Linked DNA regions of Homo sapiens: region 2 is linked to region 1. The links come from fine-mapping of genetic effects on gene expression. A gene starts in region 1. The other region holds a variant in brackets. All regions are shown on one strand. Distances are between the middles of the regions.

Evidence for each region.
Region 2: its variant is fine-mapped to the expression of ASPG in ovary (GTEx, PIP 0.92).

What each region holds. Positions count from the first base shown.
Region 1 is chr14:104,076,443-104,091,914 of GRCh38, forward strand. It overlaps ASPG (asparaginase), which reads left to right and starts at 9,258. Exons shown (of 16, transcript NM_001080464.3): 1 at 9,258-9,410. The coding sequence starts at 9,329. It overlaps LOC124903408, which reads left to right and starts at 4,411. Exons shown (of 2, transcript XM_047432050.1): 1 at 4,411-5,186; 2 at 6,418-7,253. The coding sequence starts at 4,411. The coding sequence ends at 6,493.
Region 2 is chr14:103,243,901-103,259,372 of GRCh38, forward strand. No RefSeq gene overlaps it. Among named protein-coding and RNA genes, the nearest start is that of LINC00605, 63 kb to the left of the region's middle. RefSeq lists an enhancer at 1-858. The variant T/C (reference allele first, on the strand shown) is at 7,005.

The DNA of each region.
Region 1 (15,472 bases):
AGTGAGACCTTGTCTCAAAAAAATGAAAAAGAGAAAGTATGCTTACATTTGCCCATCCTAGCTACACATGTAAGCCTGAGTAATATGAACCAATGGAGAAATAAACAAGTTCTAATAACATTCTCAGAGTTTGCTTACAAGAAAAAGAGTTTGGAGAACTGTTAGATTAAGAGTTTTGTTGTTACTGCTCATTTAGGTTCATTGTAACAACTTTTGATTTGGGATGGTATAAGACTAAAGGATAGTTTAGGGTAAGAAATAGAACTTCAGCATTGATAGTCTGTGTTCCCTCCTCCTTTTTTCACATAGCTGTAGATTAGAGATTCTTGTTTCCCCTTTAAAATTGTTTGAGGCATAATTTGCAGAGAAATGTACAGATCTGAATTATAGTGCAGATATAGCATTGATGAATTGATACACCCATGTGACCACACCGCTGCTAGGATAACAGTATTTCCATCACCACAGGAAGTTCCCATAGATACAACCGCCCTTCTGATTACTTTCACTATAGATTTGTTTTGTTTTGAGACAGTGTCTTGTTCTGTTACCCAGACTGGAGTGCAGTGGCGTGATCTCGGCTCACTGCAGCCTCCGCCTCCCAGGTTCAAGCAATTCTCCAGCTTCAGCCTCCCAAGTAGCTGGGGCTACAGGCTCATGCCACCATGCCTGGCTAATTTTTGTATTTTTAGTAGAGACAAGGTTTCACCATGTTGGTCAGGCTGGTCTCAAACTCCTGACCCCAAGTGATCTGCCTGCCTTGGCCCCCAAAAATGCTGGGATTACAGGCGTGAGCCACCGTGACCAGCCTATAGATTAGTTTTGATTGTTGTAAAAGTTCATGTAAATGGAATCCTACAGTATGTAATGTTTTGTATCAGGCTGCTTTTGCTCAATATAATGTTTGTTTGAGGTTTATTTATGTTATAGCAGCACAAAACAGACCAAGATACACGTTTAAGTCAATAATTTGTTCTTTTGTTTTCTATTGTATAAATATACCAGTTTCTTGGCTGGGCATGGTGGCTTATGCCTGTAATCCCAGCACTTTGGGAAGCTAAGGTGAGTGGGTCACCTGAGGGCAGGAGTTCGAGACCAGCCTGGCCAACATGGTGAAACCTCGTCTCTCCTAAAAATACAAAAATTAGCCAGACGTGGTGGTGATCGGCCCCTGTAATCACAGCTACTCCGGAGGCTGAGGTAGGAGAACTGCTTGAACCCAGGAGGCAGAGGTTGCAATGAGCTGAGATTGTGCCACTGCACTGCAGCCTGGGCGACAGAGCAAGACTCCATCTCAAACCACGCACACACACACACACACACACACACACACACACACACACACACTTTATTCTTTGTTCGTCTACTGATGGGCATTGGATTGTTTTCACTTTTTACCTATTATGAATAAAATTTCTGTGAACAAGTCTGTAGATAGATTTTTGTTTCTCTTGGGTAAATACCGAGGAGTTGTGGGATTACTGGGTCATTGAGCAGGTGGTCGTTTAATCTTGTAAGAAACTACCAAATTTTCTAAAGCGGTTGTAATACTTACATTCCGTGCTAGTTGGAGCTTTTCTCTCTCAGCCCTCAATCCATCCTTCTTTCGTCTGGCGTCCTGGAGCTAGACTGTAAACATTTCTTCTTTCCCAGCTGATGCAATGTTAGGCGTTGCCGGCAGAGGGCACTGGAGGGACACTGCAGGAGGAGCGGAACTACTCTTCCTGTTTCTGGTGCTGCTTGCCAGCAGGTGGCCTCCCAGCACCTCTCAGCAATAAGCAGTTTCCTGCCTCCAGGCCCAGCCTTTGCACCTCTGGCCATTCCGTGGCCTCAGCCACTCTCTCTCCGAAGAGGTCTGAGTCTCATTCTGGGTGTGGGAGCAGGGCTGTTCCAAGTTTCTTCCTCCCATGGGTGTTGTCCTTGATCCTAGAGGCTGCTGCACATCTTCTCTTCCTATGTTCTTTAGACATGTTTCTGCCCTTCTCAGTAGTTAATTCCCTTTAACTGAACATTTATTTTTATTTTTTTAGCGACAGGGTCTTGCTCTGTCGCCCAGGCTGGAGTCCAGTGGTGTGATTCACTTCCTGGGTTCAAGCGATCCTCCTGCCTCAGCCCCCTGAGTAGCTGGGACCACAGGTGTGCACCACCACACCCAGCTAGTTTTTAATTTTTGTAGAGAAAAATTTTCTCTGCCTTGGCCTCCTGGTGCTAAGTTTACAGGCATGAGCCACCACACCTGGTCCCCTAATTTTTTGTGTTAAAATTTGCCCATATCTTCCTTTGTGAAGTATCTGCTTAAATCTTGTGCCCCGTTTGGGGGGAGTTGTTTGTATTTTTATTGAGTTGTAGGAGTTCTTTTGTGAGAATGCAAATCCTTTGTCTGGTATATGTCTTGTGAACATTTTCTTCTAGTCTATCCTTGCCTGCTCACTTTTTTTATTGTGGTAGAAAACATAAAAATGTACCATCTTAACTATTTTTAAGTGCACCGTTCAGTCGTGCACCGTTAAGTATATTCACATTGTTGTGAAAGGGATCCTGGAACTTTTTCATCTTGCACATCTGAAACTCTGCACCTATGAAGCAACTTCTCAGTCCCTCCTCTTCTCAGCCCTGGCAACCATCATTCCACTTCTGTTTCTATATGTTTGGCTCCTCATAGAGTCAGTCTGTTTTGTGCTGCTGTAACAGAATACCTGAGACTGGGTAATTTATAAACGACAGATTTATTTCTCACAGTTCTGGAGGCTGGGAAGTCCAAGATCAAGGAGCTGGCATCTGGCGTCTGGTGAGGATCTGGGCTTCTGCTTGCAAGATGGCACCTTGAAGTCTGTGTTCTCATGTGGCAGACGGGTAAAAAAGACCAAACTCCCTCAGTTAGGTCGTTTTATAGTGGCATTAACTCATTCACGAGGGCACACCCTCATGACCTAAACATCTCCTAAAAGGCCCCACTTCCAAACACAGTTGCATTGGGGATTAAGTTTCCAACAAGTGAGTTTTGGGGGATACATTCAGACCTCAGCATCTAGTACCCCATATAAGTGGGATCCTATTGATAGAAGGTCTCTGATTTACGAAGTTTGAACTAAATGATTTTTTGACTTATGATGGGTTTATTAGAACATAATCCCATTGCAAACATCTGTATTTGTCTTTCTGTGATTGGCTTATTTCACTTAGCATACCCTATGTTGTAGCCTGTGGCAGGATTTCCTTCCTTTTCTTTTTTTTTTTTTTTCCTGAGACAGAGTCTTGCTCTGTCGCCCAGGCTGGAGTGCAGTGGTGCGATCGCTGCTCACTGCAAGCTCTGCCTCCCGGGTTCACGACATTCTCCTGCCTCAGCCTCCTGAGTAGCTAGGACTACAGGCGTCCGTCACCACGCCCGGCTAATTTTTTTGTATTTTTAGTAGAGATGGGGTTTCACTTTGTTAGCCAGGATGGTCTCGATCTCCTGACCTCGTGATCCGCCTGCCTCGGCCTCCCAAAGTGCTGGTATTACAGGCGTGAGCCACCACGCCTGGCCGATTTCCTTCCTTTTCTATGGAGATACCACTTTGCTTATCCACTCATCTGTGGATGCACACAGGTTGCTTCCACCTCTTGGCTTTTGTGAGCAGTACTGTTATGAACGTGGGTGTGAAAACATCTTTTTGAGACCTTCCTTTCCAATCTTTGGTCTCTGTTCTCAAATGGAATTGCTGGACGCTATGGTAGTTCTAATTTTAATTTATTGAGAAGCCTCTACTGTTTCCCATAGTGGCTGTATCATTTTATAACCCCACCAGCAGTGCACCAGAATTCCAATGTCTCCACATCCTTGCAAACACTTATTTTCTGTTTTTTTTTTTTTTTTGATAGTAGCCATCCCAAAGGGTGAGTGGGGACACCACGTGGCTTTGCTTTGCATGTCCCTGATAATTAGTGATGTTGAGCATTTCTCGTATGCTTCTTGGCCAAGTGTATATCATCTTTGGAGAAATGTCTGTTCAAGTCCTTTGCCCTTATTTATTTATGAGACGGGCTCGGTCTATTACCAGGCTGGAGTGCAGTGGTGCGATCATAGCTCATAGAGTGACCCTTCAGTGCTTTCCCACACTCCCCTGGGGTCCAACCTTCTGCCGAAGATGCCCCAGCTCTCTGCAGTTCCCTGCCCAGGCCCCAAGACTCCTTTCCCTGTCGGAAAGTTTCTTAGGCTTCCTCTCTCTGGGGTCCCCACACACCTCTGTTCCCCTCCAGCACACTGGCCCAGGCCGGGCCAGCCTGCTTCAACACAGTGTCAGGAACTCCTGTGGTGTCCACAAGCCCAGTGCCAGCGCTTGCCTGCCGTGGGACGCACTGTGTGCCTCAGGCCCCTCACTCGCCAAATAGGACAGTTATCCTCTGCCTCGGTGTGGTCACAGGGGTGAAATGTGCCTGGATTTGCAGGGTGGCTGCAACAGCGCCTGGCCCATAGGCAGTACCATGAAGACTCACAGTGTAGGGCAACAGACGACGCCTGAGCGGCTGAAGAAGGTGGGCTCCCAGGGCCTCCCTGCCCAGGCCTGCTGCCACGGCCAGAACCCAGGGGGGCACCGTGTACCTCGCCAGTGGCCTCAGCACTGCGCCTTGCCTCCAGGAGTCTTGGCTTGTTTGTGTGGAGCTGGGGACTGGGAGAGCAGAGCTTGTGACCTGAGGCCCCCCAGCCTCAGGGTGGAGGTGACCACCCTGGACCAAGGCCTGCCCCAGTTAGTGGCTGAGGACAGACAGGAGTACGTGTGGCATTCCTGCGGCCCCTTGCTCGGCACCCAGGCACTTCCTCCTGCCCCTCTGCCTCTGGAAGGCCAGCCATGGCATGGCCACGGGGGCCTGCCACCTGGCACCTCCCCAACACAATACATAAATGAGTGGGTGTGGCTGTTCCAAGAAAACTGTGTTTACACACACAGGTGCGCCAGGCCTGGCCGTCGAGCCCTGGTTTGCCGGCCTTTGTTCGAGACCAGTGGTTCCCAAATGTGCACCTGTATCAGCATCACCCAGAGCGGGGTCAGAGTCTGGACTCCTGGGCCCCACGCGGAGTTGTTGTCAGGGGCCTGGGCTTTGCATTTCCACAGGTTCCAGGTGCTGCTGCTGGAGCGGAGGCCACGCTCTGAGCACCCTGCTCTAGAAGAAGAGATGCAGAAAAGACAGGCAGGGCTGCAGAAAAGGTAGGCAGGGCTGTAGGGTGGTCCGGACCACCGGGCACTGTCAAATGGCAGATGTCCCTCCGCTCTGCTCTGGGTGGGGCTGGGGCCGGAGTGGATTTTATAAACACTCTGGGAGGGTCCCACCCAGAACTCTCCTGCGCTGTGTGGAAGGAGGGCCACTGGGGAGGGTGTAGATGGGAAGTGAGAGAGAAGAGGGGACGAGGAGACCCCTGGGTGGCCAAGGAAACACTTTTCTGAACAATCAAAAATAAAGGAGGGGCAGGCAGAACGTGGGGACTTGGCTGGGGCTGCCTAGGTTCCCTGGACTCACCTCCTGGCACTACACTGCCTGGGGAGCCAGGGGGCCAGGAGCCAGGGAGCGACTGGCACACCCCACACCTTCCTAACCCAGCCCCTGGTGGGGAGCCCTTCCTTCAGCAGCAGGCAGCACAGCGATGGCCAAGTGTCCCTCCAGGGGGACAGACGTTTGCCCCTCCACGCCACTCACCCGGGGTGAGGCCGCAGCACCCTCCACCTTGCTCCACCGTGGCCAGCTTCTGGCCTCCCCTCACCAAGCCCCGGGACTTCACGTGAAGATCACTTACTGGCCTTCTCCCCTCGCGGTCCTGGGTTCTCTCCTCCTCCTGGCCTCTGAGGCCAGAATGCTGAGGCTCAGACTAGGGCCTTTGTCTCTGCTGACACCTCGCTGCTGTCACGACTTTGTGGTCCCTGTGCCACTGACTGCAGGACGCGCAGCTGAGTCTCCTTGGACCTGCCCAGGTGGCCCCCAAGCAGGATGTGTCCAACACACCTTGCTTCCCTCTGCCTGGCCCCAGGCCCCACTCTGGCCCCTGCTTTCTCAGTAAGGACATCCCCACTCCGTGGCTGCTCTGGCCAAAGACAGGAGAGTCACCCTTTCTCTTCGGCGCGTACCCCTCAAGCTCCAGCTTGTGCTCCCAGCACTCCCACCTTGCACTTCCCCATCCCCAGCTCCTCCCCACCCTGCCCAAAGCCCTCCTGAACCCATTCTTGTCTCAGTCTCCGCACATAGCAGCCAGAGATTAAAACAAACCAGCCCAACCCTCGGTGGGGCTGGTGTTCACCTTTGGGGTTAAATTGAAAGTCCTTGCGTGGCACCACAGTCACTCAGCGGGCATCCCCTCCCTCTGAGTGCTCTCGCCCCACTGACCTGGGCACTGTGGGGCCATGCTCACTCCTGCCTCGGGCCTCAGCACCTGTCCCTTCCTGGCAGCCTGTCCCGCCTGGCATGCTGGCTTTGCTCCAATGCCAACCCTTCGGAGAGGCCTTCCCTGGCCACCCTGTTGTAAACAGCACTGCCTGTCTCCGTGTTCCCTGAGTGTTCCTCCAGGCACTGTCACTGCCAGACGCTGGTATTTTTGTCTACTATGGCCCCCACCCTGGCTGGTACACTCAGAAGGACGGGCTGCGTCCCCTGTGCCTAGAGAGGCATCTGGCACAGAGCCAGCCTTCAACATATATTGCATGAAAGATTCCGTCCAAGGACGCTGTAGATGTAGGTGGACGCAGACAAAAGCAAAGCAGGACAGTGGATTCGTCCAAAGACCGGCAGTGTCTTCAGGTGAAGCTGCAGCGTCGAGTCCTGGTGCTTGCAAGGTTTCAGCAGCAGAAACCTGATGGGGCTCCTTGCACCTGGGAGAAAAGCCACTCCAGTGAGGATTATTGCCAGTGAAGGCTGCCCTGGCCCCAGACAAGTTTTCCTAGAATTTATGGTAGCAGGCGGGTTGTTAAAGGATGATTCCCGAAAGGGCCAGACATGGTGCTCACAGGGATGCAGGGTGAGCATGCGTCGAAGAGCTTCCCTAGCCCAGGCAGCTGTGAGGACCAGCTCAGAAGAGAAGTCCTGAAACAGACACTTACAGATGAGGAATATTGACATGATTGTGCAAATGGACCTGAAACTGGATTTTCAGGGGGCTGTGATGGGCTGGATTGTCTCCCTTAGATTCTAATGTTCAAGTCCCCCACACCCCAGTGTCTTAGAATGCAACTGTATTTGGAGGTAGACTTTAAAGAGATGGTTGAATTAAAATGAGGCCCCAAATTCAATCTGACTGGTATGTCTATAAAAAGAGAAAGTCTGGACATCTGGAGATACATCAGGGATGCGTGACTGCTCAGAGGAAAGACCCTGTGAGGCACAGCAAGAAGGCACCATCTGCTTGCCCAGGAGACACCAACCTGTGACACCCTGACCTTAGACTTCCACCCCCAAGAACTGTGAGAGGTAGACCTCCTTGCACTGTAAATCACTCGTTCTGTTACTGCAGTCCCAGAAAACTAACACAGACCTTTGCTGGGCAGAATGCCTTTGCTTCTCTGCAGACAAGATTACTTTTGCACTATTGCACTGTTGTTATCAAAATAATTATATGGGGCTGGGCATGGCGGCTCACACCTGTAATCCCAACACTTAGGGAGGCTGAGGTGGGTGGAGTACCTGAGGTCAGGAGTTCAAGACCAGCCTGGCCAACATGGTGAAACCCCGTCTCTACTAAAAATACAAAAAAAAAAAAAGAAAAAAAAATTAGCCTGGTGTGGTGTGCACCTGCAATCCCAGCTATTCGGGGAGGGGGCTGAGACAAGACAATTGCTTGAACCTGGGAGGCACAGGTTGCAGTGAGCCAAGATCTTGCTACTGCCCTCCAGGCAACAGAATAATAATAATTTTTATTATGGAATCAGTGTCAAATGCTGGTGCCTTCTGGGGGCAACACACAGTTTCCCACCAAAGTGCATCAGTGCCCCAGGCAGTCAAGGTGCCAGGAGACGAGGAGGCCGCGGATCTTCTGTCCACCTGGGAGCAAGCCTGCAGCTTGGGACCCTCCTGGGACCCTGCACCCGCCAGTGCCCTGCCCTCCTGGGCTCTCATGGGAGTGAAGGAGGGTGGGCTCTGTAGGAGTTAAAGAAAGAGGAAAGAAACATGAAAAGCGGCTCAACAAAGGCAGGTTTATTTTGGAGAATAAACCTGAAAGGGACTTCTGGCCGATTTTGGTCAGGAGCCATCTCTCCTACAGACTAAGGATCTTTAAGGGTTTAGGAAGTGGGGAGCTTATCGCAGGCTCGGAATGTTTCTATGTGAGGGAAAGTTTATTGCGGGCTTGGAATGTCTCTGGTCGGAGGGGAGGTTATCTCGAGGTTGGCATGTTTCTGATTGGAGATGTTATTTGTGGTTTACGGTCGTGCTGACATTAGCTATTGGGCTGATGTGTTTTGGGCTGGATTTAGGCAGCTTTTTAATCAAAGGGAACCTAAAATGGCGGTGTTTGTCCAAGAAGGCCATACTCCTGCTCTGTCCCGCTCCAGCCCTTGGGGGCCCCTCGGGCTCTTCTCTTGGATGGTGTGTGAATGGGCACATGTGGAGGGGCTGGTCCAGCTCTGCCTGCCTCTGGCCATCCAAAGGAGGGACAGCAGGGCCTGGGCAGCAATGCCGGCCTTGGAGCCCCGGGGCTGTGGAGGCTGCTTGACAGGACACGGAGCCCCCTCTGTGCTCAGGTCGTGGAGGGCCTCGGGCACTACGGTCTGCCAGGCACCACATGTCACAGCTACTCAAACACCCAGGGCCGCCACGGAGGGCCAATGGCCGCAGGATGGCTCAGGACCCGCCCCACCCCTGTCGCTGCCTTTCTGGCTGCCCCCTAGTCCCTGGACAGGCGCTCCCCAGCCCCAAGCAGGCCCCAGCCAATCTCCTGCCCAGGCAGGAGCTCCCCCTGCCGCCCTCACAGACCTCACCTCTTCCTACACGTTTCCAAGGCCGCGCCCCGCCCCGCACCCCGCCAGGCCCCGCCCCGCACCCCGCCAGGCCCCGCCCCGCACCCCGCCAGGCCCCGCCCCGCACCCCGCCAGGCCCCGCCCCCACCCCGCCAGGCCCCGCCTCTCTCTCCGACCCTGGACAGTCCCCGGGACCCACCCCGCCCCCAGGTCCTGCCCCCGCCCGCCTCCGCGGGGCCTCCCACCCTCCCGGGCAGACTCCACTCCCGCCCCCTCCCCGTGGGTGCCCCCGCCGGCCCCGCCCTCCCAGGCTGCCCCCGGCGCCCCGGGCCTCCTCCGCGCAGTCCCTGAGTCCCGCAGGCCCTGCGTCCCCGCTGCACACCCCCGTCCACTCCCGTGGTCCCCGGTCCGGCATGGCGCGCGCGGTGGGGCCCGAGCGGAGGCTGCTGGCCGTCTACACCGGCGGCACCATTGGCATGCGGAGTGAGCTCGGCGGTGAGTCCGAGACCCTGGGCGGGGTAGGCCTCTGGACCTGGCCGCGACCGGGAGCCTCGGACCCTCCTGCACCCACGGGGGTCGTTGGGGAGTCAAATCCGCGCCTGGATGGGGGGTGCGGGCTGAGGTCGCTCTCCTCCGGTTCCGGCCACCGGCGTCCCCACGCATGGAGCCCCGACCTGGACAGAGGAGATTGCGGTGGGTTCTCGCCGTCGCGGTGCTCCCGGGAGCGCCCTGCGACCCTGGGGCCAGGCCCCCTGTGCTGCCGCTGCGCCCCTGAGGGCCAGCGTCCTGAAGTCCTGGAATATGGGGCGGGAGGGCCCCAGGGCATTGGCCTGCCGCTCCTGCTCTGGACACAGAAGGCTTAGGAGGCTGCCCTGGAGAAGGCTTAGGAGGCTGCGAGGACCCCTCAACTGCGACACCCAGGAGGGTGTCCCCGTCCCCTGGGGTCCTGGTCAGGCAGCAGTGGTTGGCACGATACTGGGGCTACCTGGCATCTGCGGGGACGCACGTGTTCACACCCGAGGTGGCCTCAGAGCCCTGCTTCCTCTGCCCCTGTGTGGACCTGGTTGACCAGAGACCAGCGATTGCGTCTGGACTGAGTTCTGCCTGGGTGGGGTCAGGGCCTGGGACAGGCACCGAGCTCTGTGGTACTCCAGCACAGTGCTGCCAGCCTGGGCTGGGCACAGGAAGGATGGTAGCTTGGGGAGCCTGAGGCCACCGGGATGGGGAGAGGACGGTTGCACTGGAGCCTCCAGAATGCCTGGGTGTTCCCCAGGAGGGCAGGACACTGCCTGGGGCCCCCAGATGGGCTCTGCTGTGATGTGGGGCCTCCCTTGGGGCCAGGACAGCCCCCTCGCCCCGTCTTGAACCTGTTTGCGACCCTCCATGGGCCACTGCCTGCCTTTCCCTCAGGAGCCCTTTCCACTCCTCCTCCTCCCACTCCCTGCTGCCCTGGCCCCTCCCCACACTCCTGCTTGTGTCCAGCGCAGCTCTCTCTCCTGGGACGGCTGGGACCCTCTCCGGCTCTGCCAGAGCCCAGGGCCTCCCCTGGCATGACCAGAACATTCTCTTGTCCCTTGCCCATCTGCCAACCACTTCCCCGCCCCTCCTATCCCCACCCCCTCTCACGGCCTGTTCCCTGGCAGCTGCCCCTCCTGGCCACCCCTTTCTGCTGAAGTGGCTGCTCAGAAGCCACCAGCACTCTGTCGGTGCTCTCAGATTCCACCCACCACACTGTGGCCGGTGCAGACCCCTCTGGAGGCCCACTCTGCGCCCAGCCCAGGAGACAAAGCCTAGTGGGGCTCGTCCACGAGGGACTCAGGTCCCCAAGAACGTGGCTGTCCAGGCTGCCGGGAGCCTCCTCTGCACTTCTCCTTCTGCCTGTGAATGGAACAAAGTCATTCACAGCTTGGCAAACGCCCCTGTGTGACACTCCACTGACACAGAGTGACACAATTCCTGTGCTTGGCCCTCACAAGCTAGAGAGAGAGGCTGCCATTGAAGGGATGGCATGCATTAAGGAGCTAGTCCCAGGGGCAGGATCTGCCAGGGCCCTGTAGGGGCTGTGGGCTGATAACAGGGTCTGAGCTGGGTGTGTGGATGGTGTGGAGTTTGGAGGCAGCCCAGGGAGGGCTTCTCTGAGGACACAAGGCCTGCAGGACAAAGATGGGAGAGGGCCAGGCCAGGAGCAGCCCTGCAAGGTGCAGGAAAGAGGAGTGGGGAGCCCAGCAGGGCCGGAGCCTGCCAGAGCTGCCCCCGAGTGGGGACAGGACCTGGGGACTCTGTGTGGGGCCTCGTCCGACGCCCCTGACGCTACCCCTTCAGGCTTGGAGTGTGGCCAACTGCAGTTTCGTTGAGCTCAACATGTAGTTCTTGAGTGGTCCGAGCTGCAGGGGCAGGTGGACTCTGTAACCCCACCACACACCCGTCTCGCTTGGCCCCCGCGTGCTCGCCGCAGCAGCCTGTGGGTGCACTCACACGCGTGCACCGCATTTCTGAAAGAGGCTGTGAGGTCCTGTGTCTGGGTGGGAAACAAGAGACTTGGAGGCTGGAAATTGGGTGTGGGGCGTCAGTCTTCAGACCTGAAGCAGCCTTCTGAGATCCCTTGGTGCTCTGTGCACTGGGGTCCTGGCTTCTGCTCAGCAGCCCGTCCTCGTGTGGCTGCGAGGTCACCCCCAGCTGTTGCTAGCTGACCCATGTGGGGCATCCACTTCCAGGAACCTGCAGGAATGGGCTCCCCCAACCCCTCGTGAGGTTGGAGCAGCCAGACTGTCAGGCGTCAATGATTTACTCCCTCCACACTGCTGACGTGGGCTCTGGCCTTCCCTGGGGAGGTGAGAGGGGAGTGGTGGCTTTGCCCTAGTAAAGCTGTTTGATTGTCGCTGTTGGAACGGCTTCTGCGCCTGCTGGTAAACAGTGACCTGTGGGTGGAACGCTGCACACCTGGAGCCCTGCCAGAGTTCAGGGAGGGCAGAGGTGATGCCAGTGGGGACGCCCCTTGACCCATCCCTTCTCTGAGTTCATTGAAGCTATCACAGGTCAAGGGGCATAGCGAATCCAAACACGGCTGATAACCCCAAGCCCAAGCTGGCATCAGTGGCCACGTTCTGTACACCCGAGAAACTTGAAGACTTCCTATGTCAAACTGGGAACCCCACCTGCTTGCCGGCCTGTCCCAAAGTCCCTCCTGAGCCCGGCTCCTTGCAGGCACAGCAGGGAGGGCAGAGATCTGGGGCCAGGCAGCTGAGAGAAGCTCCCTGCCCGGTGACCACACGGGTCCCAGCAGTCGAGAGTGTCAGTGGAGTGATGCCCATGGCTTCTTGGTTACTGCAGTGGCGTCTGTGCCCTTGGCCTGGACCTCCTTCCTGAATGGGTGCTACACGTTCACAAGTTTCTAAGCCTAAGCTTGACTTCGCTGGTGACAGTGGGGCCCATTGTCTTAGAGAGCAAAGCCTCCTTTCCAGGTGTTTGGCAGGGGGCTGAGGAGTTTCCAAGTCACCAGCAAACTCAGGCACCTGCCTGGATGGGCCAAGGAAGAGGTTCCAGGCAGGGCTGGAGGGTTCAGATTCTGCAGCCCTTGAAGCTTTTGGAGGGCCCTCATTGAGAAAAGTAATACAAGTTACAAAATCATAGTTAGGTGTGAAAGCCGGTGTTTGTTTATTTTTTATTTATTTTTATTTTTTTGAGATGGAGTCTCACTCTGTCGCCCAGACTGGAGTGCAGTGGCGCGATCTCAGCTCACTGCAAGCTCTGCCTCCCGGGTTCACACCATTCTCCTGCCTCAGCCTCCCGAGTAGCTGGGACTACAGGCGCCCGCCACCGTGCCCGGCTGAAAGCTGGTGTTTATTTAAAATAACAAAAGAAATTGCCCCAGCTGACTGGGCGCGGTGGCTCACACCTGTAATCCCAGCACTTTGGGAGGCTGAGGTGGGTGGATCACTTGAGATCGGGAGTTCAAGACCAGCCATGGACAACATGGTGAAACCCTGTCTCTACTAAAAATACAAAAAAAAAATTAGCCAGATGTGGTGGCAGATGCCTGTGGTCCCAGCTACTGGGGAGGCTGAGGCATGAGAATCGCTTGAACCCAGGAGGTGGAGGTTGCAGTGAGCCGAGATCTCGCCACTGCACTCCAGCCTGAGTGACAGAGTGAGACCCTGTCTCAAACAAACAAAAAAAACTGATGCCACTACATACCTGTTAGAATGGCTGCTGACGTACAACACATTGACTGCGGGGTGAGTGCTGGAGCCCCAGAGTTGGAAAGTGGTCCACTCGCAGGTTGGTAAGAAAACTTTACTGGCGACAGTATAGGTTTGAAAAAGGAACGTTTGGCCAGACATGGTGGCTCAGGCCTGTAATTCCAACACTTTGGGAGGCCAAGGCGGGTGGTTCACTTGCCTTGCTAACATGGCGAAACCCCGTCTCTACTAAAAATAAAAAATTAGCTAGGTGTGGTGGTGCATGCCTGTAATCCCGGCTACTCGGGAGGCTAAGGCAGGAGAATTGCTTGAGCCGGGTGGGTGGAGGTTGCAGTGAGTCGAGATGGCATCACTGTACTCCAGCCTGGGCAACAGAGTGAGACTCTGCCTCAAAAAAAAAAAAAAAAAAAAAAAAAAAGGAAGAAAGGAGAAGAAAAAGAAAAAAGAAAGAAATTGGCCAGGCTGGTTTTGAACTCCTGGGCTCAAATGATCTTCCTGCATCAGCCTCCCAAAATTCTGGGATTACAGGTGTGAGCCATAAAAACCACTGCAAAAGCACATATGGAGTGTTTTGCTTGAGAGAAGAGGACACCAAGAGAGTTTAGTCTTGTCTTTGGCTGATTTCGCCTGTGGTGCCCACACATGCCCCCAGCAGGGACAGCAGGGCCCATATCCACGCCTACCACTCTGCAGCATTCCTGGAAGTTTCTGGAAGCTGTTCCCCCACATGAGTCAGCAGCAGCTGGAGGTGACCTTGCACAACGTGAGCATGTCCCACAAAACCAAACCAGATATGCCCCCTCCACCTTTCCCATAAGGCACCCCAGCTTCACCCGCCGTGATGAGTGGAGAGTGACTTTTTGTTTCCTGTGGCCACTGTGCCGGGCGGCTGAACATCACAGAAGTTCGTTCTGGGTTCTGGAGGCCGAGGCCTGAGAGGGGTTTCCCCGGGCTGAGCCAAGGTGCTGCAGGGCACCGCTCCGTCCTGACGCTCTGCGGGAGGAGCCACCCCTGCCACCTCCAGTGTCTGGTGGCTGCTGCAATCCTTGGCTTGTGGCCGCATCACTCCAGTCATCCAGGCCAGCATCTCCAAGGGCCGCTCTGCCCTGTCGTCATATGGCCTTCCCCTCCCCGTGCCCTGTGGCCTTCCACCTGTGAGGAAACACGAGAGGGCGTTTAGGGCCCACCTGGATTGTCCAGGGCCACCTCCCGCCCCATGACCCCTAATATCACATCCGTAAAGACACTTCCATATGAAGTGACACCCACAGGTACCGGGGATTGGGATGTGGACATCTTTTTAATTTTTATGTATTTATTTAATTTTTTGAGACAGTCTCATTCTGTCACCCAGGCTGGAGTGCAGTGGTGCGATCTTGGCTCACTGCAACCTCCGCCTGCCAGATTCAAGTGATTCTCCCGCCTCAACCTCCCAAGTAGCTGGGATTACAGGCACCTGCCATCATGACCAGTTAATTTTTGTATTATTCGTAAAGACAGGGTTTCACCATGTTGACCAGGCTGGTCTTGAATTCCAGACCTCAAGCAATCTGACACCTCGGCCACCCAAAGTGCTGGGATTCCAGGCCTGAGGCACTGCGCCCGGCCCTGGGATGCGGACATCTAGGATGCTTTTTCAACCCACCATACATGAGACAGGGACACTTGGACACCGGTGTGGGGTGGACCCTGAGCCCCCTGGATGCCCAGGGTCTGAGGTTGGGTCCTTGGGGTTCACAAGGCTGGTGAATCCAGACCTTTGTTCCGGCAGCCCGTGTCCTGGCTGTGCTCTGGGCGCCTCGGAGGGCAGACGGGCAGACAAACATGTGCGGGCTCCGCCTCCCCCGTCTGCTGGCTGAGCCCTACTGGCGGGGTGATTTTGTCAGCGGCTGCACCTCAGCCGGCCTGCATCTTCCAGTCCTCTGGCAAACGTCCCCGGGGCTCCACAGGCCTTTGTGTAAGGCCAGAGGAGGATCACGGGTGCCATAAACCTTCACGGGGCCAAGGGCTGGTGTCCCGGGGCTGGTGACTTAACAGGCAGAGATGTGGAGACCAGGGTGAGCCCAGCAGTGGAGGGCGATGTCAGGGAGGGGTGCGGCTGGAGGGATATTAGAGGGGGCTGCTTTAACTTGCCAAGTTTGGGGTTAATTTGTGAGCCAGTGATAGGCGATGGGTACAGCTGCAGAGGGCGAGGGGGGAAAGCAGGTGACCATGGCTGGGATCTGCAGGATAGGATGGGGCATTGCTGCTGGGGGAGGGAAGGGAGGGCCGGGAGGGAGCTTTGGGACTTGCTGGAGGCCCTGGAGGGGTGGCTGAGGGGTCAGGGCTTTATACTGAGCAGCTGGCCCCAGGGAATGA
Region 2 (15,472 bases), 830 kb before region 1:
AGGATCTCTCAGCAAGGCAAATTTACTTCGGCAGAAGGGTATGTGCATCTCACATGTGAAGTAATGGCAAAAGCACACAGAACAAAGGAAAGCAGGGGTTTTTATTATGTCTAACACAGCTTCTGCTTCTGTGTCTTTCCCCTATTGGCTAGGGTTGGACCACACAGTCTAAACTAGTCCCAGTTGGCTAAACATTTAAACTTTCTTAGATAAGGTAGGCACGTAAGGGAGGTGAGAAGGGAGAGAAGGGGGGTCATTTACGGAGGGACTAGGAGGGTAACCTATTCCCTAATAAGGAAAGAAATGTGGACTGGGGTTGTAGCAAGTTCAGGCATGCCTAGGCATATTCAGACAAGCTGCGGTGCAGCACAGGCAAGGGGGTATTTGGAATTGTAGGATAGAGAATGAGGAAACTGGATAAGCTGTTTGAAGAGGAAACCTAACTGCATCTAACATTTTATTTATTTATTGAGACAGAGTCTCACTCTGTTGCCCAGGCTTGAGTGCAGTGGTGTGATCTTTGCTCACTGCAACCTGTTTCCAGGGTGCAAGCAATTCTAATGTCTCAGCCTCCGGAGCAGCTAGGACTACAGGCATATGCCACCATGCCTGACTAATTTTTGTATTTTTGGTAGAGATAGGGTTTCAACATGTTGCCTAGGCTGGCCTTGAACTAACTCCTGGCCTCAAGTGATCCACCCTCCTTGGCCTCCCAACATGCTGGGATTATAGGCGTGAGCCCCTGCACCTAGCTGATCAACATTTTAAGTGTAAATTTGCCCAGCATCACTGGGAAGGCTCATTCCCATGGGGGGGGGGGGGGTAAGAGGAGAGGTGCTCTGGCTCATGAACTCGGTGAGGTCTCCAGGCAGAAGATATTGGCAGCACAACGGGACAGAGCAGCGGGATCCCAGGCCGCCTGCTTGGAGAGAAGCTGTGGTGTCGCGGATCATTCCTAAGTGTTCTAGCTATCATGATTTTCGTTTTTATTCTTGACTTTAGACATCTAGAAATACAAAGCCTAATCAAGTGAAGAATAAAAAATATGATGCAAATAAAATCCCAATCTGGAAAGCATTCCTATTCCTAAAGGTAATCAATCATGTAAATCACGTGAGGGGTCTGTTTTTCTACCATCTTGCAGCCATTTTGCCTTTTTTTTTTTTTTTTTTTTTTGAGACAGAGCATCACTCTGTTGCTCAGGCTGGAGTGCACTGGCGTGATCTCAGCTCACTGCAACCTCTGCCTCCTGGGCTCTAGTGATACTCCTGCCTCAGCCTCCCAAGTTGCTGGGATTACAGATGTGTACCACCATACTTGGCAAATTTTTTTTATTTTTTATTTTTTTTTATTTTTAGTAGAGATGGTGTTTCGCCATTTTGGCCAGGCTGGTCTCGAACACCTGACCTCAAGGGATCCACCAGCCTTGGCCTCCCAAAGTGCTGGGATTACAGGTGTGAGCCACCGCACCCAGCCCATTTAACTTTTTGAGTGATTTCTAATTAATTTCCCACTTCTCGTCCTGGTCTGAAGAATAAGGTAACTGGCTGCAGATCAGCTTCAGCTGGGGATCTCCAGGTGGAAGGTACCCATGCATGCAGGACTGCCTTTTTATTTATTTTTTTTAATTTTACGTTAAGTTCTGGGATACACATGCAGAACGTGCAGGTTTGTCGCATAGTATACATGTGCCGTGGTGGTTTGCTGCACCTATCAACCCAGCATCTAGGTTTTAAGCCCCACATGTATTAGGTATTTGTCCTAGTGCTCTCCCTCCCCTTGCCCTTTACCCCCTAACAGGGCCACGGTGTGTGTTTTTCCCCTCCCTGTGTCCTTGTGTTCTTATTGTTCAGCTCCCACTTATGAGTGAGAACATGCGGTGTTTGGTTTTCTGTTCCTGTGTTAGTTTGCTGAGAATGATGCCTTCCAGCTTCATCCATGTCCCTGCAAAGGACATGACCTCATTCTTTTTTATGGCTGCGAGGACTGCCTTTTTAAAATGAGAAATGTGAATGCATGAGTCAGTGCCTTTGAGTTTAGCTGCACAAGGAATTGGTAAACAATCCCCAACATGGGCCCTTCTGGTGAGCTGGAGGGAGTCCCTTATTTGATAGAAAGAGTCCTTGATTTGATGTCTTTTCCAAGAATCAAAACCTCCTAGTTGCAGGCCATGACCTCTGATGTCTTCGTCTCCTGGGTGCTGACTCTTCAAAGAATCTTTAATTTAGAGTTTTTAGTGAGAAGCTGTATAAGGCCTTGCAATCATGAAGAATGTCACCTTTAGGGTGAGCTGGTTCACTGGGCTCCTTCCTCCAGGCACATGGGGCTTCCTGCAGTTATTTCAAAGGGAGAAAGCTGAGGTTTTCCAAACAGGTAGAAGGTAATTTAAGCAATACCAATGGAAGAGCCTTAGGCAAGACAAGGTTCAAAGTTTCTGTAAACTTTGCCATTTGTTCTTGTATCCATTGTGGCAGGAAAATAAGGTCTGGAGGCAGGGAACATAAGGCCAATTCACACTTCAGCTATAACAGGAAATATCCTCTCCATATGGCATCACTTTACGTCATCCTCTTCATTTACACAGGGTGTACCCCAAGTAGAGGGTATTTAAACTCACATAAACTCACAAAAACTCTGTAACAGGGCCTTTGAGCCCCTATGCTCAGGCCCACTACCACACTGTGGAGTGTACTTTCATTTTCAATAAAACCCTTCATTCGGCTGGGTGCAGTGGCTCACGCCTGTAATCCTAGCACTTTGGGAGACGAGGCAGGTGGATCACCTAAGGTCAGGAGTTCGAGACCAGCCTGGTCACCATGGGGAAACCCCATCTCTACTAAAAATACAAAAATTAGCTGGGCGTGGTGGCGGATGCCTGTAGTCCCAGCTACTCGGGAGGCTGCGCACGACAATCGCTTGAACCCGGGCGGCAGAGGTTGGCAGTGAGCCGAGTTTGCACCACTGCACTCCAGCCTGGGCGACAGAGCAAGACTCCGTCCCAAGAAAAACAAAGTAAGACAAAGCCCTTCATTCTTTCCTTGCTTTGTTTGTGCGTTTTGTCCACTTCTTTGTTCAAGACACCGAGGACCTGGACACCCTCCACTCTTAACACCGTCTATGTGTTCCGCCAGGCCAGAGGCTGAGGGTGGCATGCATAGTGCAGTGGTGAAAAATCGCCGTATGTCACAAATAGACCGAATTGTCTGACAGGTGAAATGGGTTCCTCGGTTGCTGTGCAACTTGGAGGACTCCCCAAGAAGGAATAATTTTCTCTAGCGAAAATTTACCTACTGTTCAGGCCATGGCTCTACGGCATGGCAATGCTTCAACCCAATGAGAAAACATGGAAATCATGACCAGGATGTACTTGTATCCTTGAGATAAAGGCAGTTGGACAAAATTCAGTTGCCATTTTATCTCAAAAGGTCCTGATGGGAAATGTCTCAGGGAAATGTCCTTGAGGAACGTGGAGTGCTTTTCAGAATTGTGTTGGGACAAGCAGGATGGGGGGAGTACACTTTTTTTTTTTTCTGAGATGGCGTTTCGCTCTTGTTGCCCAGGCAACAAGTCTTGTTTTGTTTTGTTTTGTTTTTGAGACAGAGTCTTGCTCTGTCACCCAGGCTGCAGTGCAATGGCGCAATCTTGGCTCACTGCAACCTCTCCCTCCCGGGTCCAAGCTATTCTCCTGCCCTCAGCCTCCCAAGTAGCTGGGATTACAGGCGCCTGCCACCATGCCTGGCTAATTTTGTATTTTTTTAGTAGAGATGGGGTTTCACCATGTTGGTCAATGTGGTCTCGAACTCCTGACTTCAAGTGATCCACCCACCTCGGCCTCCCAAAGTGCTGGGATTACAGGCATGAGCCGCTGAGTTCAGCCGAGAGTACACCTTTTGAGCCATCATGGGTGATGGTTTCCAGGAATATTATTTTTCCATGAAATTGTTTTTCCATGAAATCGTTTTATCTGACTCCAGTGAGTTGACTCATGAACATATTGTAAAAAGGGTAACCAAAGTCGCGAGAGAAGAATTGGTCTATCACTGAACTGTACCATAAACCCATTTCAGGAGAGGACGTGACATCCCCCTCTTACTTTTCCAAAGCTTTAACTCTTTTTCAGGGCCTTTCTCTGTGCTTTCTTCAGCGAGGTTTTTTTGTTTTGTTTTGTTTTTGAGATGGAGTCTCACTCTGTCTTCCAGCCTGGAGTGCAGTCGCGCAATCTCAGCTCACTGCAACCTCTGCCTCCTGGGTTCAAGCGATTCTCCTGCCTCAGCCTCCCGGGTAGCTGGAATTACAGGTATGCACCACCACGCCTGGCTAATTTTTGTATTTTTAGTAGAGACAGGGTTTCACCATGTTGGCCAGGCTGGTCTTGGACTCCTGGCCTCAAGTGATCTGCCCGCCTTGGCCTCCCAAAGTGCAGGAATTACAGGCATGAGCCACCGTGCTTGGCCTCCTTCAGCAAAGTTTTAATTGGAGCATATGCTTGCAGGGATAGCTCGAGATGTATAGTTTTTGGGTGAGGAAAGACACTTCAGCAACAGTTTTGGTCACAGCCTCTGTGAAACAGTTGCTCTTACCATCAAAAGTGTCTGGCTTCCGATGTCTAGGAATTTTGATAAGGGCCAGTGATTTCAGTTTCTGAATGACCTCCAAGAGATCAAAGGCCTGTTGGCCATTTTTAAGGGATTGTCTGGAAGAAGTCAGGAATCTACGTTATTTCCGGAGCATCCCCAAATCACGTGCTGTTGTAAATGCGCCTCTGCTCTCTGTGTAAACTTCAGCAACCTTGCTTTCTGCGCATCGACAGGCTCTGGCTAAGGCAATCAGTTTTGCTGGGTGGGCCAACTTTGCCTCTGGGAGAGGGTTGTCTTTTAGGACTTCAGTCACAGAGACAGCTGCATCACCTTGCAGTGTTTTCCAGAATTGCCATTTAATTAGGGGCCATCAGTAAACCAAATTACATCAGCATCCTCTGTAGGCATCTCCTGTGAGTTCTGCCTAGGAGTGAGAATTTGCTGGGTCACGGCAATACAGCCAGGGAGCAGCCCATCAGAAGGCAATGGCAGCACAGTAGCAGGGCTAAGATCCCTACAGTGAGAGAGTAATGTGAGGTGAAGGCAAGGGAAGAACTCCACATAAAGAAGCCTGTGGCAAGAGTGATGCTGCAAATGATGAGTGGCTGAAATTATTCTCCCAATGTATGTGGGTGCTTGTGACCGTAAGTGGTGAGGCAGGGTTTGCCATAAGTTGCTCACATCATCCATTGGTTCCGAATTCAAAATATTTTCTTTCTTTTTTTTATTTTTTTGAGACAGAATTTTGCTCTATTGCCTGGGCTGGAGTGCAGTGGCACAATCTCAGCTCACTGCAACCTCCACTTCCTGGGTTCAAGCGATTCTCCTGCCTCAGCCTCCCGAGTATCTGGGATTACAAGCACGCACCACCACACCTGGCTAATTTTTGTATTTTTAGTAGAGATGGGGTTTCGCCATGTTGACCAGGCTGGTCTTGAGCTTCTGACCTCAGGTGATCCATCTGCCTTGGCCTCCCAAAGTGCTGGGATTACAGGCGTGAGCCTCCATGCCCGGCCTCAGGCATTTCTTTGCAGCAATGCAAAAATAGTCTCATGCAGTCCCTATTTGAAATTCTGAAACTTGGGCCTTACAGTCATGGGTGGGTTAGGCACTCCCACCATTTCAGTGGTTTCGTTCCTCTGAGGAAGGGGACAGTTATATATGATGGGGTTGAGAACAGAGAAGACAGCTCTGGTGTCAGTGAGAGCAGGAGTCTCTTCACTCAGCAGTGGATCCACTCCTCCTAATGGGAGAGGAAGGAGAAATAGAAACGCCCCCTTCGGCTCCCCAGAGCAGCTGTTTCTCTTGGGTGGTTTTTCTCTCCTGTTGCCATTTAAGTTGTTTGCAATCTTTTTAAAGGTGACTTTGTTTCTTGCAAGAGAAGCAGACCCCTCTTTGGTCATGTGGGCTTATCTGCATCTTCTTAAGAGGTTGGGTCTGGCAAGTCAGCTGCTGGAGCTGCCTTCGTTGAAAGAAGCGGGTTGACCAGAAGATCTGCAAGAGTGCTGTGGGATTTGCTGAGCCTCTTCCTCTGGCGGAGGAGGGATAGGAGAGATGGTAACCAGAGCATGGAAGGCCTGACAAAAGTGGATGTAGAGGTGTGGGAGGAGGCAACAGGAGAGCAGTGGAAGGAGAAAGAGAAGACATTTTCAAGGTTTTCTTTAGTTGTGAAATTGTTTCTGACAATTTTTTGCTTATCTCCTGGACGGAAGCCATTTTTTCCATACCTCTCTTAGAAGCTTCTACCTACCGTTAAAATAGGACTGCTGTTCAATTTGTCTGGTTCTAAAACCTGCTAATTGTATGCACAAACATATTAACTTAGAAATTTCCAAAGACCCCGATTTTGGCCATTGAAATTTGGGGTCATCCTGAGTCATGTGGGTGCATCTGGCTGGGTGTCCACAGCATGGCGCTCTACAGGGGTGACCCACAAACCCGGCTGGTGCTTCCAAGGGGGATTGCCCCTTAAAGGAAAGCTCAGTTTTTGACAACCATTTTCCCATACTTTTAGAAATTCCTTCTCAAAAGTGATCAAGGCTGGAACAGAGCTTCTGGTTGAAGTGTGCTACTTGCAAGCGTCACTCCCTAAGGTCCCAGTGACACCGTGATTGACTGTCTTATGTGTCTCAGAATCCCTGGTCCCCTTGCAGTGGTAGAGTGCTAAAGGCGCCAGGTGACCAGCCCTTATGTGCACCTTCCAGCTGGGGTCTGTCCTGCAGGGAGGCCCTCTCAGACTGCTACACATCATGGACAAACATCCCAACACCCCCATAAAATCTCTAGTCCCCTGCAGCACCCAGCTGGGTTTGGAGGGAGCAAGTGTCTCTTAACTTCCAGGTGAGAGAACTCACCCTCATGCACCCTTTGGTTTGAAACTAGCAGGAATTGGTCACAATTGAAAAGACGAGTCCAAATTACCAGCAA[T/C]AGGAAACAGCTACAATTTTAAAATCATGCTATGTAACTTTAGGTCAAAAAAAGTGAAATCACCAGTGCTAGTGAAACCACCTTTGCAAAAAAGATAACAATGAGGAAATTATGATGGTGAAAGAGATCTGACCTAACCAGCTCCATCTTACCTTTCACCTCCAAGCTGCCCTTGTTCATTCCTGAGTGTAGGCCAAAGGAGGAAGGGAGGGATTTATAGCTTAATGTTGAAGCAAAGATAACAGCCTCTCCCCAAAACAAACCCTCTCCTTGCCTGGGGATCAGACAGCCTTTGTAGAACTAACAAATGAGCCACAGATGAGAAATTTTGGCTCAGGAGTCACGCGGCCAGAGGCCACAAGATTCCTCACCTCCCCAGTTGCCCCCATAGGTAACGTTACTATTATGAAACCTAAGGTTGGTGTTTGAGGTGTTTTTCAGACCCTGCATTCTGATGGGTCAGCTGAGGCTACACTGACTGGTGAACTGGCTCATCTCGTCTTATGATCCCCACTCAAGAACCAACTCAGCCCAAGAGGACAGCTTCGACTCCCGGCGGTTTCATCCCCGACCCAAGCAGTCAGCACTCCCACTTCCCATCCTCCTGCCCACCAAACTATCTTTAAAAAAATCCTAAACTTTGAATTTTCAGGGAGGCTGATTTGAGTAGCAATAAAACTTTAGTTTCCTGTTTAGCCGATGACAACATGTATTAAACTGTTTTTATTTATTTATTTATTTATTTATTTATGAGATAGAGTTTCACTCTTGTTGCCCAGGCTGGAGTGCAATGGCGTGATCTCGGCTCATGACAACCTCTGTCTCCTGGGTTCAAGTGATTTTCCTGCCTCAGCCTCCCGAGTAGCTGGGATTACAAGCATGCGCCACCATGCCTGGCTAATTTTGTATTTTTAGTAGAGATGGGGTTTCTCCATGTTGGTCAGGCTGGTCTCAAACTCCCGACCTCAGGTGATCTGCCCCCCTCAGCCTCCCAAAGTGCTGGGATTACAGGCATGAGCCACTGTGCCCGGCCTTAAACTCTTTCTTTCTCTGTTGCAATTCCCTGTCTTGATAAATTGGCTTCCTCTGAACAGTGGGCAAGAGGAACCCATTGGGCAGTTACACTAGACTCCAACACTGTAACCCAAAACGCTGCCATGAGGCTGAGGAGAAGACAGACATTCTCTGCAGAGCTTTTGCCTAAATCTCCTGTCCAGAGACAGAGACAGAAGCCCTCACTCTTGCAGGAAAGAAAGGATTTGGAAAACAGCCCAAATAAAGTTTCAACTTCTTCACAACAGCCAAAATTTGGAAGCAACCTACATGTCCATCAACAGAGGTACTTACACAATGGAGTACTATTCAGCCATAAAAAAGAATGAGATCCTGTCATTTTCAAAAACATGGATGGACTAGAAGTCATTATGATAAATGAAATAACCCAGTCTCAGAAAGACAAACATCGCGTGTTCTCATTTATTTGTGGGATCTAAAAGTCAAAACAATTGAACTCGTGGAGACAGAGAGTAGAAGGATGATTACCAGAGGCTAAGAAGGGTAGTGGGAGGGTGAAGGGGAGGTGGGTTCATGGATACAAAACAAATAGTTAGAAAGAATGAATAAGACCTAGTATTTGATAGCACAAAAGGGGGACTATAGTCAATAATAATTTAATTTTACATTTTAAAATAACAAAAAGAGTATAATTGAATTGTTTGTAACATAAAGTATAAATGCTTGTGGGACTGGATACCCCATTTTCCATGATAAGATTATTACATGTTGCATGTCTGTGTCAAAACATCTTATGTTCTGCATAAATATATACACCTATATGTCCACAAAAAATAAAAATTAAAAATTAGAAAAAGATCTAGACCTCAACCAAAAGGAAGGGAGGTCTGAATTCAGGACTCAACCTTTGCACGCAAGGAAACCTCTGGAGTCAGAGGAACACAGAGTGTTTATACTGGTTCGGATTGCTGAGTGTGAGAGGGAATGCCAGTTGGCTGCAAGGGAGGAATAGAGCTGAATCCTCCAGACAACACCAGAAATGCCAACCAAAATTAAGAAACTGAGGCCCCAGGCACGGTGGCTCATGCCTGTAATCCCAGCACTTTGGGAGGCCAAGGCAGGAGGATCACCTGAGGTCAGGAGTTCAAGACCAGCCTGGCCAACATGGTGAAATCCCGTCTCTACTAAAAATACAAAAATTAGCCAGGCATGGTGGCGGGCACCTATAATCCCAGCTACTCGGGCGGCTGAGGCAAGAGAATCACCTGAACCTGGGGGGCGGAGGTTGCAGTGAGGCAAGATCGCGCCACTGCACTCCAGCCTGGGCGACAGAATGAAACTTTGTAAAAAAAAAAAAAGAAAGAAAGAGAGAGAGAAAGAGGGAAAGAGAGAGAGAGAGAGAAAGAGAGAAAGAGAGAAAGAAAGAAAGAAAAGAAAGAAAGAAAGAAAGAAAGAAAGAAAGAAAGAAAGAAAGAAAGAAAGAAAGAAAAGAAAGAAAGAAAGAAAAGGTATCCCATGGTAATCCCATGGTGAGATCCTATGGTGAGATCATAGCTCACTGCAGCCTGGAACTCCTGGGCTCAAGTGATCCTCCCACCTCTGCCTCTAGTCCTAGTCTTTGAGTAGCTAGGACTGTAGGTGCATGCCACTATGCCTGGCTTTTTTTTTTTTTTAATAGAGATAGGGTCTCACTCTGTTACACAGGCTAGAGGGCAGTGGTATGATCACAGCTAACTGCAGCCTGGAACTCCTGGGCTCAAGCCCTCCTCCCAATCCTTGGCCTCACAAAGCACCGGGATTACGTGTGCGAGCCGCCAAACTCAGCCACAAGTCAGTATTTAAAGGAAAAATGGGGCAGTTCCTAAGTTGTTTACCAAAAATTTTTATTGTTTCATTAAAATAACCTATTGATTTATTAGACATCGTTCTTTGTATCACAAATTCCAGGAGCATGAAGATAATGGGTGAGGCTCACATTGTGCAACTTGTGGTAATATTTTAGGTAATTTATTAGCTAGCCTGGAAACTACAGGGAAGGAAAGAAAAAAACAAAGCCCTTAAACAGTTACCCCTGGGCATGGCTGCGGGGGTGTGACTGAGGTCCCATGCTCCTGTCCCTCTGGACCTGATACATTTTGCAGACCCCCCCCCATTCCTCAGGCTGTTCTGAGCCACTTTTCTTTATCAGTTGACAAGGATGCACACCCATGTACTCTTTGTGTCTGGCTTATTCACTCACAATTAAACTTATTCACTCACTTGCTGGAAGTTGCCAGGTCATAGGGTTTGGGTAGGTTCAGCTTTAGAACACACTGCCAAACAGTTTCTCCAGGTGTTTGTACAAAGTGCACTCCCGGCCGGGTGCGGTGGCTCACGCCTGTAATCCCAGCACTTTGGGAGGCAGAGGCGGGTGGATCACGAGGTCAGGAGATCAAGACCATCCTGGCTAACATGGTGAAACCCTGTGTCTACTAAAAATACAAAAAAATTAGCCGGGCGTGGTGGCGGGCACCTGTAGTCCCAGCTACTCGGGAGGCTGAGGCAGGAGAATCACCAGAACCCAGGAGGCGGACGGTGCAGTGAGCCAAGATCGTGCGCCACTGCACTCCCGCCTGGCGACAGAACGAGACTCTGTCTCAAAAAAAAAAAAAAGAAAAAAAGTGCACTCCCACCAGCAAAGTGAGATGCCTCTGGGTGCTGGGTATCCTGGTGAACACTTGGTATTCTCAGTTGCTCAGCTGGTGGCGGGTGCGTGATTGTATCACTGCTTTGTAGATTTGAGGCTGCTGGGGATAGCATTCGACATCCAAGACCTGCCTAAGGAGAGGAATCTAATAAGTCTCAGAAAGTTTCAAACTCTTTATTTTCACTCAGTTTTCAAAGACATATGTTAATTAACTGTCCATTACACTGCAGACTGACTGAGCTGGGCTCCCTCTGTTTCTATATGCAATTAAGTTACTCAGGAAACACTTTCTTTTTTAAAAGCTTTGATAAATAGGTTATAAGTATATTTAAAACTACATGGAAATTAAAATGTTATTGCTGTATGCAATGCTATAAATGAGATAAAACATGCAAATCTGATGGAATTCTGTGCCAAATAGCTAGTCTTTCTTTCTTTCTTTTTTTTTGTTTTTTTTCCCGAGACAGAATCTTGCTCTGTGGCCCCGGCTGGAGTGCAGTGGCGCAATCTCAGGTGACTGCAACCTCCACCTCCTGGGTTCAAGCAATTATCCTGCCTCAGCCTCCCAAGTAGCTGGGACTACAGGTGCGTGCCACCACACCCCGCTAATTTTTTGTACTTTTTTTTTTTTTTTGAAACAGAGTCTTGCTCTGTTGCCCAGGCTGGAGTGCAGTGGTGCGATCTCGGCTCACTGCAAGCTCTGCCTCCCGGGTTCACGCCATTCTCTTGCCTCAGCCTCCCGAGTAGCTGGGACTACAGGTGCCTGCCACCACGCCTGGCTAATTTTTTGTATTTTTAGTAGAGACGGGGTTTCACCGTGTTAGCCAGGATGGTCTCGATCTCCTGACCTCGTGATCCACCCGCCTCTGCCTCCCAAAGTGCTGGGATTACAGGCGTGAGTCACCGTGCCTGGCCATTTTTTTGTATTCTTAGTAGAGACAGGGTTTCAGCATATTGGCCAGGCTGGTCTCAAGCTCCTGACCTCGTGATCAGCCTGCCTCGACCTCCCAAAGTGCTGGGATTACAGGCATGAGCCACTGTGCCCGGCCAATATCTTTCAAATAGCAAAAGTAACTCTCAGAACACAGTCTATGCAAATCACAGCACAAAGTGCTCCAGCAGGAGGGACCTGTTCTGTCCACCTATGTCAGCATGATCTGCAGTGATCAGGCAGCCTTGCCATGGGGCAGCAGAAGTGAGAAACCCTGCCATGGGGCAGCAGAGGTGAGACACCATTCCAGGAAATAGATCGAAACTCCAGTGTGTACTAATGGATACTACCCACTGGCTGAAGGCTTGAAACTACCTTTGCAAAATTCTGACAGAAAGGGAAATCTGACATAGCTAACTCCATCTTGCTGTTCTGTGCAGGAAAAGTGCGAGGGGAGAAGAAAAGACACACACACAATACCTTTAAGTGTAAACAACCTTCATCTTACGTGGCAATGCAGATATAATAAGCAAATTATATAATAAGCAAATAATATAATAAGCAAATTCATATAATAAGCAAATTGCAGTGGGAAAGGGAGAAGGCAAAATATATATCCATATGTGTGTGTATATATATATTTTTTTTTTTTTTCGGAGATGGAGTCTTACTCTGTCACCTAGGCTGTAGTGCAGTGGTGTGATCTCAGCTCACTGCAACCTCAATCTCCCGAGTTCAAGCTATTCTCCTGCCTCAGCCTCCTGAATAACTGGGACTACAGGCGTGCGCCACCACACCCAGCTAATTTTTGTATTTTTAGTAGAGACAGGGTTTCCCCATGTTAGCCAGGCTGGTCTCGAACTCCTGACCTCAGGCAATCCGCCTCCCAAAGTGCTGGGGTTACAGGCGTGAGCCACTGTGCCCAGCCAAGATAGATATATATATTTACACTCACCAGGCTATGGAGGATTCACTGCCAGACCGGGAAGCAACAGCCTGGGCTCCAGAGTTGGCCACCCGTCTGTGCACAGACAAGGAGAGGTCTCATGAAGCTTCGATGTGGTCTGGGGTCCTAGCTCTTTTTGTAACGAGCTGTTTGGCGTGAGGCCCAGTCACGAGGGGCCTTTGTGACTGGGCTCAAGGAACACAAAAGGGCCAACTTGCTTTTGCAATTTTCTATTGTTTTTCAATAACTAATGTATAGGAATAGATTGAATTAGAGATTTCTCCAAAACAGCGCTGGATAAACGCCTCAAGGGGCTCACACAACCCGTTTGGGGACTTGGTGGCCATTGTTTGTGTCCATGTTCAATTGAGTTCAAATTTAATGTTTAACTTTTCCTCCACACTTGCCTCTAACCTCCAAGTTGTCCTTGTTCATTTCTGGGCAAAAGCCAAGCTAACTTCGGGAGGAATTTAGTTTATAGTTTAACACTGAAGCAAGGATGATAATAGCCCTTCCAAAACTATCTCCTCTTCATTCAGGAACCAAAACTGTCTTTGTAAAACTAACGAAAGACCCCAAGATTAGAATTATGGCTCAGGAGTCAGGTAGCCAGAGATCACAAGACTTGTAACCTCCCCAGTTGCTCCTATAGATAACATAATTGAAAAACTAAGATTCGTGTCTGATGTATTTTTCAGACCCTGTATTCTGATGGATCAGTTAGAGCCACCTGGATCAGTAGCCCATACCAAGAAGCTGGCTCATCTGGTCTTGTGATCCTACCCAAGAACTGACTCACTGCAAGAAGACAGCTTCAGTCGCATGATTTTTATCTCTGATCCAACCAATTGTTATCCCCATTCCCTAGCCCCATGCCCACCAAACTATCCTTGAAAAACCCTAGGCTCCCAGCTTTCAGAGAGGCTGATTTGCATAATAAGCTCTGGTATACCACATGGCTAGCCTTGCACTGATTAAACTCTTTCTCTACTGCACTACTACTGTCTTCATAAATTGGCTGTCCTGTGCAGCTGGCAAAATTCCATTGGGCAATTACAGGCTCAGCTCATTCTCCATTATAATTTTGTTTAAAAATGGGCCAGGCGAGTGACTCATGTCTGTAATCCCAGCACTGTGGGAGGCCAGGATGGGAGGATCACCTGAGCCCAGGAGTTCAAGACCAGCCTGGGCAAATAGTGGAATCTCATCTCCACAAAAAATTTTGTTAGAAGTTAGCCAAGTGTGGTGGCATACAACAGCTGTCCCAGTTACTCAGGAGGGTAAGGTGGGAGGATCACGTGAGCCCAGAAGGTCAAGGCTGCAGTGAGCCATGACTGCATAAATGCACTCCAGCCTGAGTAACAGAGTGAGATCCTGCCTCAAAAAAAAATTATAAAAAAAGGTATAAAAATGACAGCCGACTCTATGAATATACTAAAACCAGTGAATTGTACACTTTATACAAATGAAATAGCACCAAGTACGGGTGTTGCTTAAAAGGACACCTTTGGATCCTTCATAGGATGTCACCATTAGAGGATCTGGGGAGAATATAGGACTCTATTATTTGCAACTTCCTGTGAGTCTATAATTTTTCAAAATAAAAGTTTAAAAATGGGTTAGATAATAACAAATCTCAGTATTTACTAACTCCAATAGAATAATTGGAGAAATCAGTCAAAATATTTAAAAGTGACCCTGGCCCCATTTTCCAGCACATGCCCAAGGTCCTGGGTGCTGAGGGAGCCGTGGGTCCTCCTTCCCTGGGGTGGAGCCTTCTCTGTCCCTGGGCTCCTGGCACAGACTCCCTCCAGGACCCAGATGGGGTGGGCGGGGTCCTCACACTGTGCCCTCTCCCCACCCTGCCCGCCCCAGCTCAGGGCCGGAATCCAGGGATCCCAGGCTGGGTCCCACCCACGGTCATATCTCCCTGTGGCTCCTGGTCTCTACTGCACCCCCAGCCTCGGCACTGGGTTGACCCTGGAAGGCCTCCTGGGTGCAGGAAGGGGTGGGACCCTTGTCTTTACTCGCATGTGGCGGCATCCCCCTGGCAGCGGGAAGGGCCCTCCCCTGGACACATCTGTGCAGGTTCCAATAACCAGTCACACGGGAGCGTTTGGGCGCAGCATTAAAAAAATGCTCCGAGTTAATTTCCTGGGCCCAGCTCCTTTCCACTCTGGATTTCAGCCTCTTAGGAGAATAAGCCAGCGAAGTGGGGTTGGGCCGCAGACACAGGAGTGGGAGAAAAGTGGAGGGGAGGGTCCATGTAGTCAGACCAATACTCCCACTGAAACCAGATCATATGGTGGACTCAGTGTTTTAATGCTGTGGTTTTGGCCAGGCATGGTGTCTCCCATCTGTAATCCTGGCACTTTGGGAGGCTGAGGCAGGTGGGTCGCTTGAGCCCAGGAGCTCGAGATCAGCCTGGGCAACATAGCCAGACCCTGTCTCTAAAAAAAAAAAAGTTTTTAATTAGCCGGGTGTGGTAGTGCACACCTGTAGCCTCAGCTACTGGAGAGGCTGAGGCAGGAAGATGGCTTGAGCTCAGCAGGTCAAGGCTACAGTGAGCCATGGTCACACCACTGTACTCCAGCCTGGGCAACAAAGAGAGATTTTGTCTCAAAAAAAAAAAAAGTGTCTTTTTAAAAAACTGGAATGCTGGCAAGATAATCACCAGACCCAATGGAAGGGAAGCAGGACTCTGTGGGGTCAGCCAAGCAGGAGGACCCAGGAGAGTTTAGGGGGTGAATGAGAACATTGATTCCCATGGGCTCTGGGGGAGGGAAAACAACACAACCCTTGGGTCCTGGAGTGGGGTGTCTACGGGAAATCCCCTCCACGCTGTACTGGGCGCACAAAGGGAGTTCGCCCAGAAGCACGTGCACAGCCTC